4 linked regions of the Homo sapiens genome follow. The protein of the gene in region 2 interacts with the protein of the main gene of each other region in a pairwise test. Each region holds a gene or a part of one and is shown on either strand. Other genes may lie near its edges.

Region 1 (4,793 bases), on a different chromosome or scaffold from region 2:
TTTACTATTACCTAATCTTGGCAGTGAAGTGAAGTTTGAAACTTCTGCTCTACTCAACAATGTACTATAAATAGAAATCAATCTCGGAAGTAAAATATATACTTACTCTCCTAATATCATCCAGTGTGTGTATTTCTGGTGAAAGTCCACCATGAACACAAAGAAACTGTTGGTTTAAAAGTGCAGCAAGAGGCAAACTATCAAAAGCTTCCATACAAGCTTCATAGACTCTTTCCGAATACTTAATTTTACCTAGAAAAACAAAAAACTAATTGAAAATTACATTACTGGTGGTGGTGTGACCATTTTAAAAACATATATATTAGATTTTTATTTCTTGTTCTCTCCCCTCCTTTATATCTTATAGCTATTTATAATGAAATTGAGATAGTTACAGTTTCAACTGTAGTAATAGCCCAGACAGACAGACAGACAGATGGCAAGAAAATTATAGACAGTAAACAGCAAAGTGGTGGCCAGGGCTTCAGAGTGAGTGAAGGGGTGACTATAAAAAGGTAGCAAGAGAGAACTTATGGCATGATAAAACTTTTCTGTATCATGATAGTGGTAGTGGGCAACTCTATGCAGTGTCAAAAGTCACAGAAGTAAATACCACAGAGAATAAATCTTACTGCACACAATTTTTTTAAGGAAAGCATCTTCCCCTATAAGAATCAACAAAAATATGCAAAGTTATCTGTCTTATGAAGACAAAATATTTGCTCTCTCTAAAATTATTCTCGATGATGTTATGTCTTATGAAGCAAAATATTTGCTCTCTAAAATTATTTTGGATGACAGAAAAGTCATCACGTATTGTTAAAAATAAGTCAGTCAAATCTCTAAAAACAGGCCAGGCACGGTGGCTCACGCCTGTAATCCCAGCACTTTGACAGGCCAAAGCAGGCAGATCGCTTGAGGCCAGGAGTTTGAGACCAGTCTGGCCAACATGGCAGAACACTGTCTCTACTAAAAATACAAAAATTAGCCAGGCATGCTGGTGTGCACCTGTAATCCCAGAGACTCAATGGGTGAGGAACAAGAATCACTTGAACCCAGGAGGTGGAGGCTGCAGTGGGCCGAGATCGTGCCACTTGCACTCCAGCCTGGGCGACAGAGCAAGACTCTGTCTCAAAAAAAAAAAAAAAAGAAAGAAATCTCTTAAAAACAGCTCAACCCTTCACCTTTATCGGCCAAATAAGGCAAAATTAGAACTGTACTTGAGGTTAAAATCATTTTAATACTTGCTTTATTTTATTCTAAGAGTCAATGACTACTTTATTCTTATTACAGGCAAGATGACTACATCATCACAACAAAATTCAAGGTTCATCCATTTTTTCTGAAAAATAAAAGATAATAGCATGCTCATGTCAGAAAAGCTGAGGGGTTCCTCTTGCCTACAATGAATACTTTAAAATGGGCAGTGAAGCAGGAAGCCAATATAGAAACACAAGAAAGACAAAACTCTACCAAATCAAACTATCATTTACTTTTAGAGAGATATCATGCACTTTCATTTGCTCCTTTACAACTTTAAATTCCTATTTTGGTTTTGATGAGATTTTGGTAGGTGGTTTGTTATTTATCTAGGCAAAGAAAAAGAACTTAGTTCCTATTTCCTGTTTTAATACTGTAATATTCAAATATTAAAAAAACTATATATATATCCAGCAACCAGAGATTCTACACTGGCAGTCTGCTAACGACTCTGTTTTCTAGCACTGTGGTTTAATAAAAATTCTAATTTGACTGCTTTTAGGTCAAGCATGCACTTTCCAGGTCTTATCTTACTCATTTAGGTTAACTGCCTGATCCTTGAAGTTATAAGAGTATGCCACTTCTGCCACTACCCATCACTGTATTTTTCTCCTGTTGCTGCAAGTCTCTACTTAGTATGACCTTTATTGGATCATGTTTTGAGTCTCAAAACGTTGAAATTATTTCTGCTTTTAGAATTTAACTCTACTTAATACAGTCATAAATATTAACTTAAAAAGCACAAAGGCAGGCCAGATGCGGTGGTTCACACCTGTAATCCCAGCACTTTGGGAGGACGAGGCAGGTGGATTACTTGAGGTCAGGAGTTAAGAGACCAGCCTGGCCAACATGGTGAAACACCGCCTCTACCAAAAATACAAAAATTAGCAGGACGTGGTGGCGCATGCCTGTAATTTCAGCTACTTGGGAGGCTAAGGCAGGAGAATACTTGAACCCGGGAGGAGGTTGCTGTGAGCCGAGATTGTACCACTGCACTCCAGCCAGGGCGACAGAGCGAGACTGTCTCAAAAAAAAAATAAAAATAACAAAAATAATAAAAAAGCACAAAGGTTTGAGGTGTGAAAAAGGCCTAATCTTGTTCTGTAACATATGGTTACTTACAGGTATTAGATTACCATTGCTATAATAATTTGAGAGAGAAAAGGGATAAACATTGCAGGTTAAGAATTTCACCAACTGTACCTGACTAGTCTTAAAACAATGATATTTAAAAAAACAAAAAAATTTTAAGAAGAATTTCAATCATTAATAGCATGATTGAAATGATCTGCAATGGTAACAGGATAAACAATTTGTTAGGATTCCTCACAGGAATGCCTCAAGATTGAAGGACAAAAATCTCCAATGCAAAATAACATTTTTTTCTTTTGGTTTTTATTTTTTCCTGTTAGAAAAAATATATACATTTTTTTTTCCTGAGACAGAGTTTCGCTCTTGTTGCCCAGGCTGGAGTACAATGGCGCGATCTCGGCTCACTGCAACCTCCGCCTCCCAGGTTCAAGTGATTCTCCTGCCTCAGCCTCCTGAGTACCTGGGATTACAGGCACATGTCACCACGCCTGGCTAATTTTTGTATTTTTAGGAGATGGGGTTTTGCCGTGTTGGCCAGGCTGGTCTTGAACTCCTGACCTCAGGTGATCCACCCGCCTCGGCCTCCCAAAGTGCTGGGATTACAAGCGTGAGCTACCGTGCCTGGCTTAGAAAAATTAATTGTAACATTAAAACTTATATATAAAACTCTAAGTATGTTTGTAAAAGTTAAACATAATAAGAAATTCTGAAATGAAAAAAAATTTTTTTTTTTGAGACAGGGTCTGACTCTATTGCCCAGGCAATTGTCCGTGCAGTGGCATGATCTCAGCTCACTATGACCTCCGATTCCCAGGCTCAAGCGATCCTCCCACCTCAGCCTCCTGAGCAGCTGGGACTACAAGAGTGTGCCGCCACACCCAGCTAATTTTTTTTTTTTGTATTTTTGGTGGAGATGGGGTTTCACCATGTTGGCCAGGCTGGTCTCCAACTCCTGAGCTCAGGCAATCCCCCTGCCTGGGCCTCCCAAAGTGCTGGGATTACAGGCGTGAACCACCATGCCCCACCAAAAACTTCTTAATACCATTAAACACCAGAGAGTGCTCGACAACTTTCCTCAAAGCTTTATGTGTGGACATGAAATCTGTCCTTACATGTTGCACTGTAAAGTCTTCAAAACTCTTACTACCCACTTAAGTCCAAAAGAATACTGAGGAAGTGAAAACATTTCTTCTGGCAGTACTCACATTCCTGCTTAAAGGTAAAATATTCAGTAAGGTGTCTGCATTCATGGTTGCCTCTCAGAAGAAATAATGTGCTTGGGTATAGAATCTTCAGAACCCATAAATATAAGACACACTGCAAAAGAAAATTTTTCTAGTGAATTTATCTTGTACTTTTGTTTAATGAAGCTGCTTGATCTTTGCTCCTTTTCCTCTACTACCCTTACCATCCTCTATTATCTTTCTTTGTCCCTTACTAAAATATAAGCACCACAAAATCACAGATTTTGTCATCTTATTCACTTTTGATTCTCCACTCCCAGAAGAGTACCTAGCAAATAGGAGAAGAGCAATAAATATTTGTTGAATGAATGAGTCAAACAATCTATTTAATTACTTTGGATTTACAGACTGCCCAATATAAAAACAATTAGCACACTGGTCTACAGATGCGTATTAGTAAATAATACTGTCAAAATAACAGCAGCTAACATTTATTAAGTACTTACAATATGTGAAGCACTATATAATTCCCCTAATTTATTCCTCAAACAACACTATGAAGTATGTAATATCATCTTTATTTTACAAATGAGAAACTGAAGCAAAGATCTCAAGTAACTTGTCCAAAACCACAAAACTTCTAAGTGATGGAGATAGGATTCTGATCCTCTGATCTTAAGCATTATGCCATGCTGCCCATGAAGGGAAGGTCCATGTTTTATGTTTGTTTCATTGATTATGAATATTGCCTTACATATGGTAAGTGCTTATTATCTGAACTAATTCAATGCAAATGTAATTTTTCAAATAAAAATATTATTAAACATTATAGCAGATGCTATTCTCTAAATAGATTTAACATAAGAAAGAGACTCACATTTTACTTATTTGCTTAAAAAAGGAAGAAATATTTGATATGGAAATAAGCATGGTTTATATAATCATATGCAAAAAGAAAAAACAAACTTTTTTATTTTTAGAGACAAGGTCTCACTGTCACCCAGGTTGGAGTGCAATGGCACAATTACTGCTCACTGCAGCCTCGACCTTCTGGGCTCAAGAAATCCTCCTACCTCAGTCTCTTGAGCAGCTGGGACTACAGGCACATGCCACCAGGCCCAGCTAAGTTTTTTTTTTTTTTTTTGTGGAGACAGGGTTTCACCATGTTTCCCTGGCTGGTCTCGAACTCCCAGGTTCAAGCAATCTGCCTGACTTGGCCAACCTGTGCTGCGATTACAGGTGTGAGCCACCACACCC
Region 2 (4,793 bases):
GAGAATTGCTTGAACGCGGGAGGCGGAGGTTGCAGTGAGCCGATATCACGCCACTGCCCTCCAACCTGGCGACAGAGTGAGACGTCTCAAAAAAAAAAAAAAAGGAGAAAAGAAGTAAGGTCTCGAATTCTAAGCTTTTCTAGAAAAAGCAAAATAAATTCAAAGCAAGGAGAAGGAAGGAAATAATAAAGACAAAGCAGAAATCAACGAAAGAGAAAAGAAAAAAAAATCCATGAAAACAAAAGCAATTTTTTGGAAAGATCAACAAATCTACATAATCTCTTCCAAACACTATCAGAGAAGGAAATACTTCCCAACTCATTTTATGAGACCAGCATTAATTACTCTGATAACAAAACCAAAGACAGTGCCAGCAAACAAACAAAACCCAAACCAACCAAAAAAACCTAGGTGGAGCCCTGAATGTTTATTCCTCAAAGCTGGAGAGCAGGAGCCTCTCAGACAGGGTCTCACTCTGCCATCCCGGCTGCAGTGCAGTGACACAATCATAGCTCACTGCACTCTCAAACTCCTGGGTTTAAGCGATCCTCCTGCCTCAGCCTCCTGAGCAGGTGAGACTATAGGTGCGGGCCACCACAACTGGCCAATTTTTTAAAAATCGGTTCTTATTATGCTGCCTAGACCAGTCTCACCTCCTGGCCTTAAGCGATCCTCCTGCCTCAGCTTTCCAAAATGTTAGGATTATGGGAATGAGCTACTGTGCCCAGCCTTCAGTGCTTGTTTACAGTATGACGGATCAGGCTGGAGGGAACCCTGTCGCACTAATTGCAAGTAAGCATCATTACCCGCTACTTTTGTCTCAAGAACACTGTGCACTGAGGAAGGACATCGCAAGTGCTAAAAGTCGAATGCGATGCCAGGCTGCAGATTGTAAAGGTGCATGCAAGAGGTGGCAGGGCTCAGTGGTGAAAAGTTCTGTGCTCGGTCCAGGAGACTTGGGTCAAGCCCTAGCACTGCTACTCACTGGGGCCAGACCCTGTGCAAAGTTTACCTACTCTGAGCCTCAGGGTCCTCTCCATGAAGATGGTGACAACCACCCCCACATGGGGAAGCAAAACAAGACTCAATGTATAATAAAGGTGCTGGCACCCACAGACTGTTCACCAGCCTTTACTACTTTACACGGTAAGTGCTGGTTAAGTATTTGCTGAACTGACAAATAGTAATATAACCAAGAAACAATTGCTGCCCAATCCCATGAACACTCAGTTAAAAGTTTGGAGCCAAGATACTTCAACTGCTTAAAAACTACACAACTTCAAAACCAGCTCATTAAAAAAGAAAGCAGGAGTGGGAGGAAACCCTCAGTCCTCGGCCTGAACGCTTGGTGGCTGTCGCTTCAAGGCATGCTGCATGAGACGCATAAGCAAACGAATTTCAGATCATCAGAAAGATCTTCCTCATTTTCTTCTGGCCCTGACCCACCTTCCGACTTTCTCCTTGACACTAACTTCCTTGTCAAAGCCTCGCGTCCATTAAGCATGTCTGGTATTTGATCTCTGTACCTTCCATCCCATAACTAGAGTGCCCTTGTCACAGATCTTCATCTTTTGCAATTCTGTCTTCTAAAGTCAGAAAAACATAACATCCTCCACAAAGACTTGTGCAAGGGGCCCATACTCTGCGGCCCCAGGGAGTTTTCTCCACAGGCTGCTTCCACTGGGACTGCGTCCCTCTCACTACTCCAGCTACCCCCAGGCTTTCAGGAAGTGGGGACAGCGTGCTCCCTAGCTCCTAACCGCACTGCTCACCGAGCACAGTTGACAGTTCCGTCCCACCTATACATTACCCCATCCATGGAGAAATGCAGCGATAATCCAAGTTCACAGAGACGGTGGAGAAAGGGCTATGTGGATGCATTGAAAACAAAACACAAACCCGAGGGGCCAGGTGATCCCTTCTCCCTTCCACTCTTACTAGAAAACGGCAGCGTGTTTTCTCAGGCTCCCTGAGCTCAGAGGCTCCTGAGTTCGAGATCTGCCTAGGAACCACCTGGGGAATGAAAAGAGAAAGACGGCCTCCTGGCCCCTCGCAGAATCAGGTTCAAGAGGTCAGGCTGAGCTCAGGAGGCTGCTTTTTTTTTTTTTTTTCTGAGACAGGTCTCACTCTGTCACCCAGGCTGGAGTGCAGTGGTGCAATCTTGGCTCACTGCAACCTCTGCCTCCCAGGTTCAAGCAATTCTCATGCCTCAGCCTCCCAAGTAGCTGGGCCTGCAGTCTTGCCTACCGTGACTGGCTAATTTTTATATTTTTAGTAGAGATGGGGTTTCGCCATGTTGCCCAGGCTGGTCTTGAATTCCCGACGTCAGGTGATCCGCCCACCTTGGCCTCCCAAAGTGCTGGGATTACAGGCATAAGCCACCGCGCCTGGCCTTACTTTTCATTTTTTAAACATCCACTTCCCCGCCATATATGCTATAGCTCAAATGCGGGTGATTTAACGATTTTTAAAGAAACATCATAAAAACCAAAGTGAACAGAACACAGAGGAACAAGGCATAAAGTGACGTTCAACAGACGCAGCTCCTGGGGGAGGAGGTGGAACAGTGCTTGGACCCGCCATAGCCACGGACCCATGAGGGATGGTGCCACGCAGGGGCTGAGACCAAGGTCTGGGTTCCCAGAATGGAGCAAAAGGGAGGGCAAGCAATGTGAAGGAGACGGCGAGGACTCCTGCGCCTTCTAGAAGGTGAGGGGACCCCATTTTCATGTCCCACCACTGAGCTCTCCCAACAATCCAGCTGATGCAAGCAGCAAATTCAAGGGCTACAAAGACTAGTATGAAAAGAACTTTTTTTTTTTTTTTAAAGCATGCTTGAATTATCCGCTGTTACATTTTTAAAGGAGCCTAAATCCATGCCCACTCAGCAGTGCACACTAAGCTGCCTGCTCCAAAGCAGGGAAAGAGGACAGGTCAGGGGACAGAGCAGAAGGACCACAGACGCTCCTGCTGTGTGTCACACCCTCCAGACACCCACCGCAGGGCTTCTGGTTGGCCCCTCTCCTGAGCTGTCTCCAGGGCTGCACGCCAGCCATGGTTCCAGGCTTGTACCCAAGTGGTGGGTCCTACTGCCAATTGTCAGGCTCTAAAAATTGGAGGCCAAGCGCAGTGGCTCATGCCTGTAATCCCAAAACTTTGAGAGGCTGAGGTGGGAGGATGGCTTGAGCCCAGGAGTTTGAGAGCAGCCTAGGCAACATAGCAAGACCGTGTGTCTACAAAAATTAAAAACAAAACAAAACAAAAAAAACACCAAAACCTTAGCCAGCCATGGTGGCATGAACCTGTGGGCCCAGCTATTATGGAAGGTGGGAGGATCACTTGAGCCCAGGAGTTCAAGGCTGCAGTGAGCTGCAACTGTACCACTGCATTCCAGCCTGGGCCACAGAGCAAGGCTGTCTCAAAAGAAAAATAAAAAAGTAAAACAGTAAAAATTTGGTGTGTAAAGGGTGACTAATTCAGGAAGACTCCATTAGAAGACCCAGGAAGAGCATTCGGGTCTCTTTCTCTTAATTTAATACGAACTCCCTGAGCAAATGACATTTCTGCATATTCTTAGAACTCTAACCAACCCCAAATTACTTTTTGTGAGTAATCACAATCTGCTGCCTCAAAATGGCAACTAGAAAACAGACCACACTCAATTTCCTAGCACATTTTGGAATCCTTATATGGATGTGTATAGAAAATGATTTAGAGGGAACAGATACCTGGTCAAACAGGTAGACTGTGACATCATCGAAAAACGTGACTGCCTTCTTTTCCTTCTTCCAGTCCTCGGGCAGTGGGTCGGGGGCATTGGCCGCTGTGGGCTTCAACAGACTCCGCAGGTGCCTTCCGTCCTCGTTGCTGAGGATGATGGGCACGGGGTGCTCGGTCTCGTCCTCCGACTCGGAGCTGAGGCTATGCAGGTTGAAGGCCCGCAGGTCCTCGTCCGAGTCGTCGCTGTTTTCGTCCTCCTCGTCTGCATCCATCCCGTCCTCTGAGAGGTCGAGCATCCCTGACACCCCGAGTTTCCCCAGGTACTTCCCTTCGATGTCCGGCTCCTTCAACTTCGGGCCCTCGGAGTGGCTGGACAGGGACTTGTCCAGCGCAGAATTGGTGTAGGCAAGGAGTTCGTTCGTGTTGGTCCCCGTGGAAGCGAGGGTGCAGGGGCGATCGTCCTGTGTCTCGAAGTCATCGCCGCTGCTAAGTTCTGCATTCAGCACACTCCAGGGACTGCTGGCCTCGTCTTCCGTGGGATGCACCTGCTGGGGAACACCAGTCTGTGCTGGCTCCGGCGTGGCTCTTAATTCCAGGTCACTGGAGTTGTGCAAAGCAGACAGACAACTTTCATCTGGCTGGCTCTTTCTGGCTTCCAGGCAGCTATCCTGGGCAGCAGGACTTTGCTCGGGGAGGACTGGCTCGGGTAGGGGCTGCTCCTGTACCAACACCAAGGCGGATGGGGAGGTTCCCGGGACCTCCTCAGACCTTTTCTCGGGCTCAGAGTCATTGTCTGAGAAGTACGCAGAGTCTCGGTATGAACCCTGGGAGCCAGCTGTGAACGTCTCAGGGGTCACTTCTGTGCCTCTGTGACCATCGCCGGCATCTGAGATGACAATGACCGGGTTGGGAGGCAGACCGCTGTGGCCGCCATCGCCCGTGGTGGCTGGTTCTGAGTCTGCGGTGCCCTCGGGAGCGGGATGCAAGGTCCACTCGGGAGACTCCAAGTTCTCTGTTTCGTAGCCACTGTCTGCCGGCTTATCGGGGGGCACTAGTTTCTGGGGAGTGTGAGA
Region 3 (4,793 bases), on a different chromosome or scaffold from region 2:
CAGGTGATGCTGATTGGGTGCAGGTGGTGCTGGTTGACTGGGTGCAGGTGCTGCTGATTGGGTGCAGGTGATGCTGATTGGATGCAGGTGATGCTGATTGGGTGCAGGTGATGCTGGTTGATTGGGTGCAGGTGATGCTGGCTGACTGGATGCAGGTGATGCTGATTGGGTGCAGGTGATGCTGATTGGATGCAGGTGATGCTGATTGGGTGCAGGTGATGCTGGCTGATTGGGTGCGGGTGATGCTGGCTGATTGGGTGCAGATGATGCTGGCTGATTGGGTGCAAGTGATGCTGATTGATTGGGTGCAGGTGATGCTGGCTGATTGGGTGCAGATGATGCTGGCTGATTGGGTGTGGGTGATGCTGGCTGATTGGGTGCAGGTGATGCTGGCTGACTGGGTGCAGGTGATGCTGATTGCTTGGGTGCAGGTGATGCTGGCTGATTGGATGCAGGTGATGCTGATTGTGTGCAGGTGATGCTGGATGACTGGGTGCAGGTGATGCTGCATGATTGAGTGCAGGTGATGCTGGCTGATTGGGTGCAGGTGAGGAAGAACAGCAGGACCATTTCACCAGGAGAATTCCATAGCTGGGGTGAAACAAAAACCTAACACTTCAAACTGAGGGAAGCCAAAATATTTCTCCCCGAAATATTGAGGATTGCTAAAGTCAAGTCACTGAAAAGGCAGGGGTACACTTCCTCAGCCTCTACTTGCCTGGTGGCAGGACATCAGTCCTTCTTTACTGGAGACAGCACTTGTTTATTGGCCCAGAGAAGGAACCAGCAGGCACCAGAGAAATCTGGGAACAGGTTTTACTATCTCTCCACATTTTCCTGACTTTTAAAAGACTGAAACTGTTCTCTTCTTTATCTTGTCACTATGCAGGATCTATGGCTATTTAAATACAATTTAAGCAAAGCCCCTAAGCCACTGCCTTGGAAGAGAAATACTTTTAACTGAGGCCTTTCCCGTACAATGGGTTCAGCACGTGCAAATGTCTGCTTGTTTGTTTGTTGTTGTTGTAGTTAATCTGACTTTTATTTTCAAGAAAGTGTCTCAACTAAGAACCTAAAAAGGGGGAAAAAGAGAATTGTTTTGTCCTCTACAATAAATTAGGCCAGAATAGTAGCATCTTATTTTACCTGAAAAGTTTTTTTATCCTTCCATAAATTACTCCCTTTTAAAAATCATTTTGGCTTCAGTTAAGGCTTCCAAGAAAGGTGCAGCAGAGACAATCCTACATTCACTCTCCGCAGGTTTATCAAGTGTTTGCAGGTCCTTTCTTACCTTAATCCTCTTAGTTTCAGGTTCTGCTATGACACCACTGGTCTTAAGGTCCAAATCTCCAATACTTCTTGTCATTGCAAGCCTGCCATTTACGTGAGGCTGCCCCAAACTATTCCAAGCTACAAAACCACCACATTTCTTGATCCTGTTAAAAGTTAAATGACAATGGTGTGATATGTAGAAAACCCTTTGGGAGGCCAAGGAGGGCAGATCACGAGGTCAGGAGATCGAGACCATCCTGGCTAACACGGTGAAACCCCGTCTCTACTAAAAAACAAAAAATTAGCCGAGCGTGTTGGCAGGCGCCTGTAGTCCCAGCTACTCAGGAGGCTGAAGCAGGAGAATGGTGTGAACCCGGGAGGTGGAGCTTGCAGTGAGCCAAGATTGCGCCACTGCACTCCAGCCTGGGCGACAGAGTGAGACTCTGTCTCAAAAAAACAAAAAGAAAACCAAGTCACTGTTAAACTTAACCATGACATCAGTTTAAAAACTATTATGAACTAAAAACATCATCCACATAGAATGATATGATGGATCAGTGGTGGTAGTACCTTTCTTTTTCATCTTTTCTTTCTGGAGTATGGTCAATGGTCAGCTTCATGGGTTTTCCTTTTCTACACAAAATAGCCCGGCTGTCCCCAACACTGGCTACAACCAGTTCAATACCATCTCGCAATAGGGCTACTGTTGCAGTAGTCCCAGAGGTCAGAAGAGTTGCTACAAGTATTATGAAAAAAAGAGTACAAGTTAGTGACAGTCAAATGATTGGATATGGAATTTTTATTACAAAATAAAACACAAGCATGATAAACTAATGCTGGAATATATCATTCTAATTTAACTAGAGCTAAGCAAATAAAATGCAAATGAACTATGTAAGTAACAGCATGCAGAGAAACAAGTATTTAATTCAGTAACAAGTCTCCATGCAAACGGAAAGGTTGCTAACCTTATTTGGCAAACACTGCATCACTATCTACAAATGGCCTCTATTCATATCAAGTAGAGCTGACTTGAACTTATAACAACACCTTCATGGATATCTGGTGTCCAGACTGAAAGTATTAAAATTTAATTAGGTTGGCTATGATGGTGGGATGACTTAGGTCTACTTGAGCCCATGGAGGCAAGCTGACTTTTCTATAGTCTATGGATTTAGAAGGTTTTCTCTTCCATTTTTCACTCCTATGCTGTGAACATATTATCAGTTAGTAGGCTAAGTGAGACATGCCAAGGGTATACCATTTGCATATTCTACCCCTGTATGCTTCTAAAACTGTTTTAATTTTATAAATGTTCACCAAAAAAATCCTAAAATGGTTACAGGCTCACATTCTTTTCTGTTTATCTTTGTCCTCCCTAGACGTGAAACAAAGTTACAACCATCATTACAGGAGCAGAAAATCTGGGGGAGGGGAGGTGGAGAATGAAGTTCATTCTAGCTTCTCATAAACTTGGTGTAGTTAACACTCCTAACTCCAGAAGGTTGTAATACAAAGAGGTAGTCTTCAAACGCAGGGCAGTACTGCCAGCTGCAACTCCTGGGGTCCTGTTTGGGCCCAGAGCATCCCACAAATATGAATTTTCTCTAATAACAAATAAAATTCATTGTTACTGGGCTTGAGGTCACCGTTTCCTCCATCCAACTCAGACTGCATTTCTGCATCTTCCTTTGATTTCCTCTAACAGTGTCTGCCCTAAGTTCTTTACCACTTGTTAAAAATTGTTAATTTGCATTGAGCCTTGTCAAAAGTGAGAATATTGTGAAATTATGGGCTAAAAAATAAAACAAAGTGGAAGAAATCGGAAAAGATAACTTATTTAAAGCAGGTATTGTCTTTAGTAACACTGTTAACTCTTTAAAACATTCCAAAGATGACTTCGATTTTAAAGGTACATTTAGGAAAAACGAAGTGCTACTAATTTGACTGATTAAGACTCAATCTTTCCAAGCTTTTTTTTTCTCCCCAAAAAGATAATTTTGAAAACTTCATCAGTAATGCATTGGAAGGAGATATATACATAAATAGATTTTTCCAATCAGTATATTAAAATGCCTGCTTTAATCAGAAAAGTAAGATGGAAAAGCATGAACAAACTCTACTTAATCTTTTATAGTCATGCTGAACTTTCTTGAGAAATAACATTTATAGTTGCACTATCTTTCCATTTTTCTCTTGATTTTGGAACTGTCGTGCCAATGTAATATTTCTGCAATGTTGAAAGATACATTTGTCCACCATATAACATAAATGTTTTAGCATAAGTATCAGTGATATTTATATTACAAATGTTAACTCGTAACTTTAAATTACCCAAACGACTATGAAACAGTGGAATCTTTACAGTTTGACTAACTATGATATTTCAAACGATTTAAAGAGCCAGATAAGGGAACACGGCATTTATTCAGATGCTACCTGTCCCGGGAATTTAATATTCCTTCCATTTGTTTAAACCATCTACAATAGTTTTCTTAAAAATGGTTTATTATTGGCCACAGTAAAAGAGTTAAAATTTCATAAGTAGAAGTTTAGTTATTTAGGCTTGTAATTTATGGCTCTGTCACCTAGGAATTTTAAGACTTTGAGTTTTTACCAACCCAACTTCACAGTTCCAAAATCCCAGGATTTATAGGAAAGGCTTCAAAACTAACTGTCAATTCTGATTTGCTAAGCATTTAAGAATGTAAATATTAAATCAGCATTCATTTTCATTTAACATTTAACATGGAAGTAAAAATTCTCACTTTTTGCCTAACAACAAAACTAGAAAACTAAGACATCTTTCAATAAGTTCTTAACACTCACTGGACAATTTCTACTGCAAGTCATCTCAACTAATGGGACAAAGAGATGTGGGAACCTTCCCGTAGTCCAGGATAGGAACCGCTGGACTCCTTCACCTGGGACAAAATTAAGCAGATCTCTCTTTCCACTGAAGCCCCGCATATAGTGTCCACGGGCTCCAGGTCTAGAGCTGCTGACCAGGCACAGTTCTCTGCCACAAATAACACGCACAGAGGCAAATACGAATTTCACCCAGGAATTGTGCTCAAACATTACAAACCTGCAACACAGGGGAGAGCAGAGAAAGAGCTGCAAAATAAGGGAAGGGTTTTTTATTTTGGTGAAAATTTAACTAGCAAATTATATAATATTCCAGGAGATGCCAAATCAATTATTCCAAAACTCAGTTTGTTCCAGTTGATGGTATTTTGTAGTTGAGCCTATTTTTTCATCACAGGGTAACACTTCTTTCTTAATTTTGTGGTTTCTAAGGTTGAAAAAACTATATAAAAAAGTATCTGTACCAAGACACATAAATGGTGACACAGACCTACATTTAACACACTCACAAAAACACTCACGCATATACACATTCACTGAAATAATTGGTCTTAAACACAGTAAATCACTACCTTTACTGAGTTACAAAAAATGCACTGTAAATTTGTTTGGTAGCAATATCAGAATTGTCTCAAGAATAGAAAGGTAAATCT
Region 4 (5,565 bases), on a different chromosome or scaffold from region 2:
CAAATTCTTGCTTTGCTAAGTGTTGCAAAGGGGACTCTGCCTTATGACTTTTGGAACGAGTACAGACTTCTTATATGACATGAAGCCCACGGAGTCCTGTTCAGCTTATATACTAACAACTGGTTTAATTAGACTCAACATATTAATGGTTTAACATGTCACTGAAGAAAGCATAGAAGTAAAAACAATTTTCAAAATACATTTGTGTATAGTTGGTAAATTCATGTTCCTGCTATATTTGAATCACATAGATAGTTTTCCCAGGTGTGTTTTGAGATTTATAAATCATTTTACATCTAAGGATAAAAAAGAAACAGGTAAACTCAATAGGTGAGAAATCTGCTGAAACCAGCTAATTGATTTGTTTTTTTTACTTTCTTTTTCATAAAAACCCAATCTGTACAAAAAAAGATTTCCTTCTGCCCTGTGAAACAGGTTCATTAATTCATAAGAAATCTCCTTCTTTAAGATGTGGTCCTATGAAAACCTTGGTACCCCAATTGTTTCATGCAGTGTTGTTAGGACAGCTATTTGCAGATCCCAATTCCAAATGTAAAACTACCTTCTCACCCACAAACTTTCCTTTGCATTCTAAAAAAAAAAAAAAAAAAAATTTAAGGAAAAAAAAACCTCAGAATCATCATAACCCAAAGAGATCCAGTTTACTATATAAAATATCTCCAATAAATAGTGTAGCTTCTTCCTCCCAAACTGACTTTTCAGGGCATAGATCCAACAGGTGTGAGGTTTCTTCTAACTGATTTCTATAATTTCTCATTTAGGAAAAATGGCATTCTTTTTCAAAAGGAACTGGTGATCAATCACACAATAGTCATCAGTAGTCATAAATGACTAAGCAGGACCCAAAACACTGATCAGGATCAGTATTTTATTGACAGTAAAAAAAATAAAGGGAAAGCAAGCAAGAACCTAACATTATATGATTTTTGTGAAATTCAAAGTATAAGGTTTCTGTGAGCTCACTGTCATGTATTTCAGGCAATGGCCACAACCTAGAAAGTCAATAAAAGCTAAACTAAAATCCAGAATAGAGATCTTGAAACACTCAAGGCACTGACCACACTGAACCAAAAATAAAATTATAAAGAGACTTCAGTACATTGATAACTCAAAAATTCAAATTATAAACACCAAAAAATAAGTAAATTGAATAAAACTTTTATTATTTATTAGCAGTGTATTCTTCTACACTTTAAAATAGAGCAAAATATCTTTTGGAAGATAAACTATTCATAACAAAATACATGTCAAACAATTTTTATTATCAGAGTAAAATTACTTTGCTATATACTTTCTATATTATATACATCCACTTCTTGGTGTGTCTATGTAGGCACATGTGTAAAGTAATTTTTAGACATATACATGTACATACATATGACACATATACACACATAATTATGGGAAATTTACAGTAGTCAACTTTACAATCATTTTAATAGCTTCACACAAATTAGTGTTCACAGAACTAAAACTGTCAACATGATTCCCTTTCCCCTACTTCTCAAATGTCATCTGAATTACTTTTTATGATAACTTGAAAAAAATACTGTCATCTTCCTATACAATTAACCAATTTTTATAATAACTCATAATAAAATATTTTACTTTTTTAACTTTAGAAAAGATACATAATTCCACTTATTTTAGTTTTTGATTCCTAAATCATACAATTCGTTTTTTTCATCAGTTGAGTGTAATTTTTGGTACTGCAGTTACTGAAGGTTAATTTAACAAACCTGAGTCAAACATTCATTCAAATGCCTTTTTTAAAAACATAAAACATGAACAAGATGTTTTGATGAAGCATATATAATAGACTCAAGGTACCCTCCCCTAATAAATACATTATAAATAACTCAATGGTTGGGAGTAAAGCACTTCATATGAATCCATTTAACTAGCACTTTCAGTGTCGAAGCAGTCCATTCTTAAGCAGCCTGGAAGGATATCAGGATGTAACGCTCCTCGATTCCTCATAGAAATGAAACCTACAGGCTTCTGAAGACCTAAATATCAGATCATACTTACATGAAAGGGCTGTGAGTACCTATAAGGGTCCTTTCATTTTCATAGTAGGTTCCAGATATGCTAGCGTGTGCAGCAGGGGGTTGTACCCTGTTTTAAAAATATCTCCTTTAATACAGAGAACTACTTAGCAGCATCTTTTTCAGTTTTTTCTCTCCATTGATTTAAAACTGATGTCAAACCATGTGTGATTACAGGCAACAACAACCTCATACCCAAAGCAGGATATCCTAATTGGGTTAAGAACTCTTTTGAAAGGAGGAAGGAAAAAAAAACATTTGGAATATTGAGTCATTTCATAGAGAAAAACCATGAAACCATGCTCTCAGAAGAAATATTCAGTGAATTCTGATCTTTCACTGCATGCTGTATTTTAAAGCCCCCCAGGATGCAAAACTAACTCAAATTGGCTCAGCAACAAAAACAATAGGAAAGGGAATTGTCCTAAATAAGCCATCCCATGCCATTATACTCTTGGTAGAGATAAACTTGGATAAACTCAGTGTAACTAAACTGACTTCCCAAAAGAATGAACTGACCTGCCATATTTATAGTGCGAGCATAAAAATCACTTTCTAAAAACTTTCTCCCTTACTTCTTCTTAATAAGAAGGAATTATTTATTCATTAGAGACAAAACCATACTAAAACTAAACAGATTTAAAATACAAATTTTTGGTAGCAAACAGCAGGAAAATCTAAATCAAAATATAGTGTAGTTTTTACATAATTTTATATATTTATAAATTTATCAAAATAGTCTTTTAAAGTTCACAATACATATATAATGTAACACTGTACATGTAAATATAATAATAAATGTATTACCAAAATACATTAAAAATAACCCTTCAAAATACCAAATTCAACATTAAAACTGTCTTTAAAAGTATGGAAATCTCCATAAACATAGTTTCAGTGCATTTATAGTAGTCATTAACCAGTTTTCTGTTTTCAAGTCTCTTGAAGGTGTTATCTTAGTGCTCTTTTTAATTTAAGGTAAGAAGGCAGAGATATTCTTCCAGCAAGAAGTTGCTTTCCCTCTCCACTGCTCGTCCAGATGAAGAAATTGTGTCTAAGAGAAGAACAGCTTTCACTGGAGTGGCAAGGCCTTAGTAATGAACATATTCAGACTGAAGGGACTGTGCAGGGAGAGACATAAACTGAGGTTAAATTCCATCACATGTAAAACTTCTAGCAAGTCATGCAGCTTCTCCCTTCCACACAAGACAGCTTAGAGATCAATGAAATAAACTAAGCCAAAACAGAAACAAAAAGACAGGAGACACAAAGCATTAGCTAGGTAAGAATGAGATATTCAATTACGCAAAGTGATTGTAAGAAAACTTTATATTTTAAAAGGTTTACTAATTTATTTATAGTGATTAAAAAATTAAGTTTTAATTTAAAAATCGGTAGGTAGCCTAAACTCATCTCTAAGCATTTCTACAATTAATGAGTTTTACTTAACAATATTAAAAGATACTTTTAACTAATTAAAGATTACTAGAATATACTTTGAGATGATATATCCTTAAATTTAATTCAGTACATATCAATGGCATGCTTCTAATGCAGTAGAATTAGCAGCCATTTAAATAAATTCCTTAAGCATGCTTGAATTTATAAATATCTTACACATCCTTTCCCTTAAGGGGAAATGAAGTACTACCAGCTTGAAATCTGATCTTAAGACCCAAAAACATTTATGCAGAAGAGTCTTGCTGTCGGAATTTAATAAACAATAGGCAATTTTCAAGTAAACCATACAAATTCTTCCACATCACATTAGATACTAACATATAAAAGGATTGTGATTGGGATATGTAATCAGAATGCCTGGGACAACAGACATAAACCAGGAAAAGATAGAGAGTTACAGAAAGTTTGCCAAACAGTTATTTTTTTTAGCAGGAAACAGTGATTAGAAAAAGGAACATAAATCAATCTAAACATTAACAAATTTTTTGCTCAATTCTTCCAATTAAATACCTGAGGATAACAAAGTTTACTTGATTTTCTAGTAAATGCCCTTTTCTCCCACCCAATAATTATTTCTCAAATTAGTCTGTAACATTTCATTAACAGGTCTAGTCAATTATAAGACAGGTCCATTTTGGTGATGATATAGGTTATCAGTAAAAAAGAATCTGTCCATTTTCCAAAGAACTTACAAAAGGATTCAAGCTATCTTTTCTCAGCTTCAAAACTGCAGTGAATTTTACACCCCATGAACAGCCAAATGGCTGTTCCTGAGTAAGTCCCTGTTAACACAGTATGTCAAAGAGTTATGGTCCCTGACCGCAAAGGGCGAAAGCCACAATGTCATAACAGATGTGAAATGAAAAGACAGCGGTGTCGACATTAAATAGTAATATACATAGTGTAAAGTTAACATCGTGCACCAGGAAAGGCTTAGGTGAGAGGTAGTAAGGGAAATGGGTGGTTCTCAAGGCTGCCAGTTTCAAGAGCTGTAGGAAGAATGGAAAAGGTTTGGCTATTGACTTTCTTGTATGTGGTTCATGCTAATACTTCAAAATAGGTGTGAGATGATCAAGAATCAGAGCACTATACTATAAATATACCTGAACCCACAGTGCGAATAAAAGAGGTAAGACCCTAAGAAAGTCCAGTGAAGTTGGTCAAAAGCCTTGAAGCCCATATACATTCCACTTGAGGGACGCCAGCTACCACACTCGCAATTAGAGCATAAACATTTTTCTACCTGCTTTTTCTCGGTTTCTTCTAAGTCTGGCAAGCAGTCAGAGGGCAGAGCCAGTTAAGTCCCCCAGCTATAAGAATGCCACAAAGGTATGTTGTGCGTGTATGTGTGTGTGTGTAGCTCAGCTAGTGCTTTCTTGAGAATATTTAACTTTTACTTTTGTTCCGATTAGTAAAGTTGTGCATGTTATCACTAACAGAAATCAGAAATTCTTCAAACTGCATATAACTTAGAACAAAGTTGTTTTTGCAAGCTCCATCAATTATCAATAAACAGAGATGTAGCAAATAAACATTAGACAAGCGACCTTTGTTAAACCAACTTTTTTATAGGGTAAAGTATTTCATATGTACATCAATATAGAGGGGCAAATATGTGTGTGTGCATATATTTATATATATAAACACACACATATATATATTCATTTATTTACATATTTATTTAGTGAATCACAGTACCCAGTGAACTGGAAAACAGAAATAGTCTAGAACATTTTAAAGATTTCTATTATTCATATGGAGAATATATTCATTAGTCTTCTATCCAAAGCCTTTACTTCCACAGAGCTCAAAAACTCTGGCTGGTGTTTAATCTAGGCTCAGATACAGCTCACCACAAGCCCCACTATTTCCTTTTCCAACCCCCTAGTTTGCTCTCTTATGTTGCCTAACTGGCCCTGCAGGCCTCTGCAAACAAATGATGACACCATTTGGCCAACGAATTGACCTTCTGTCCCACCAGTTCAATTCATTCAACAAATAATTACTGAACATAAGTTGTATCTATTAAGCACTA

Evidence for each region. The genes of interacting proteins can lie anywhere in the genome.
Region 1: the proteins of LMTK2 (region 2) and PPP3CB interact in a two-hybrid assay, tested with the Homo sapiens proteins (one study listed by BioGRID and IntAct).
Region 3: the proteins of LMTK2 (region 2) and PPM1K interact in a two-hybrid assay, tested with the Homo sapiens proteins (one study listed by BioGRID and IntAct).
Region 4: the proteins of LMTK2 (region 2) and CDC14A interact in a two-hybrid assay, tested with the Homo sapiens proteins (one study listed by BioGRID and IntAct).

The regions. Positions count from the first base shown.
Region 1 is NC_000010.11:73,471,362-73,476,154, forward strand, and holds part of PPP3CB (serine/threonine-protein phosphatase 2B catalytic subunit beta isoform), read right to left. Parts: intron 3,670-4,793; coding exon 3,558-3,669; intron 253-3,557; coding exon 107-252; intron 1-106. UniProt on the Homo sapiens protein: Calcium-dependent, calmodulin-stimulated protein phosphatase which plays an essential role in the transduction of intracellular Ca(2+)-mediated signals.
Region 2 is NC_000007.14:98,193,508-98,198,300, reverse strand, and holds part of LMTK2 (serine/threonine-protein kinase LMTK2 precursor), read right to left. Parts: coding exon 3,729-4,793; intron 1-3,728. UniProt on the Homo sapiens protein: Phosphorylates PPP1C, phosphorylase b and CFTR.
Region 3 is NC_000004.12:88,266,899-88,271,691, forward strand, and holds part of PPM1K (protein phosphatase Mn(2+)-dependent 1K), read right to left. Parts: intron 4,390-4,793; coding exon of another isoform or gene 4,197-4,389; intron 2,009-4,196; coding exon 1,843-2,008; intron 1,437-1,842; coding exon 1,292-1,436; intron 1-1,291. UniProt on the Homo sapiens protein: Serine/threonine-protein phosphatase component of macronutrients metabolism.
Region 4 is NC_000001.11:100,515,876-100,521,440, reverse strand, and holds the end of CDC14A (dual specificity protein phosphatase CDC14A), read right to left. Parts: intron 3,191-5,565; coding exon 3,161-3,190; 3' UTR 1,164-3,160; downstream 1-1,163. UniProt on the Homo sapiens protein: Dual-specificity phosphatase. Required for centrosome separation and productive cytokinesis during cell division. Dephosphorylates SIRT2 around early anaphase.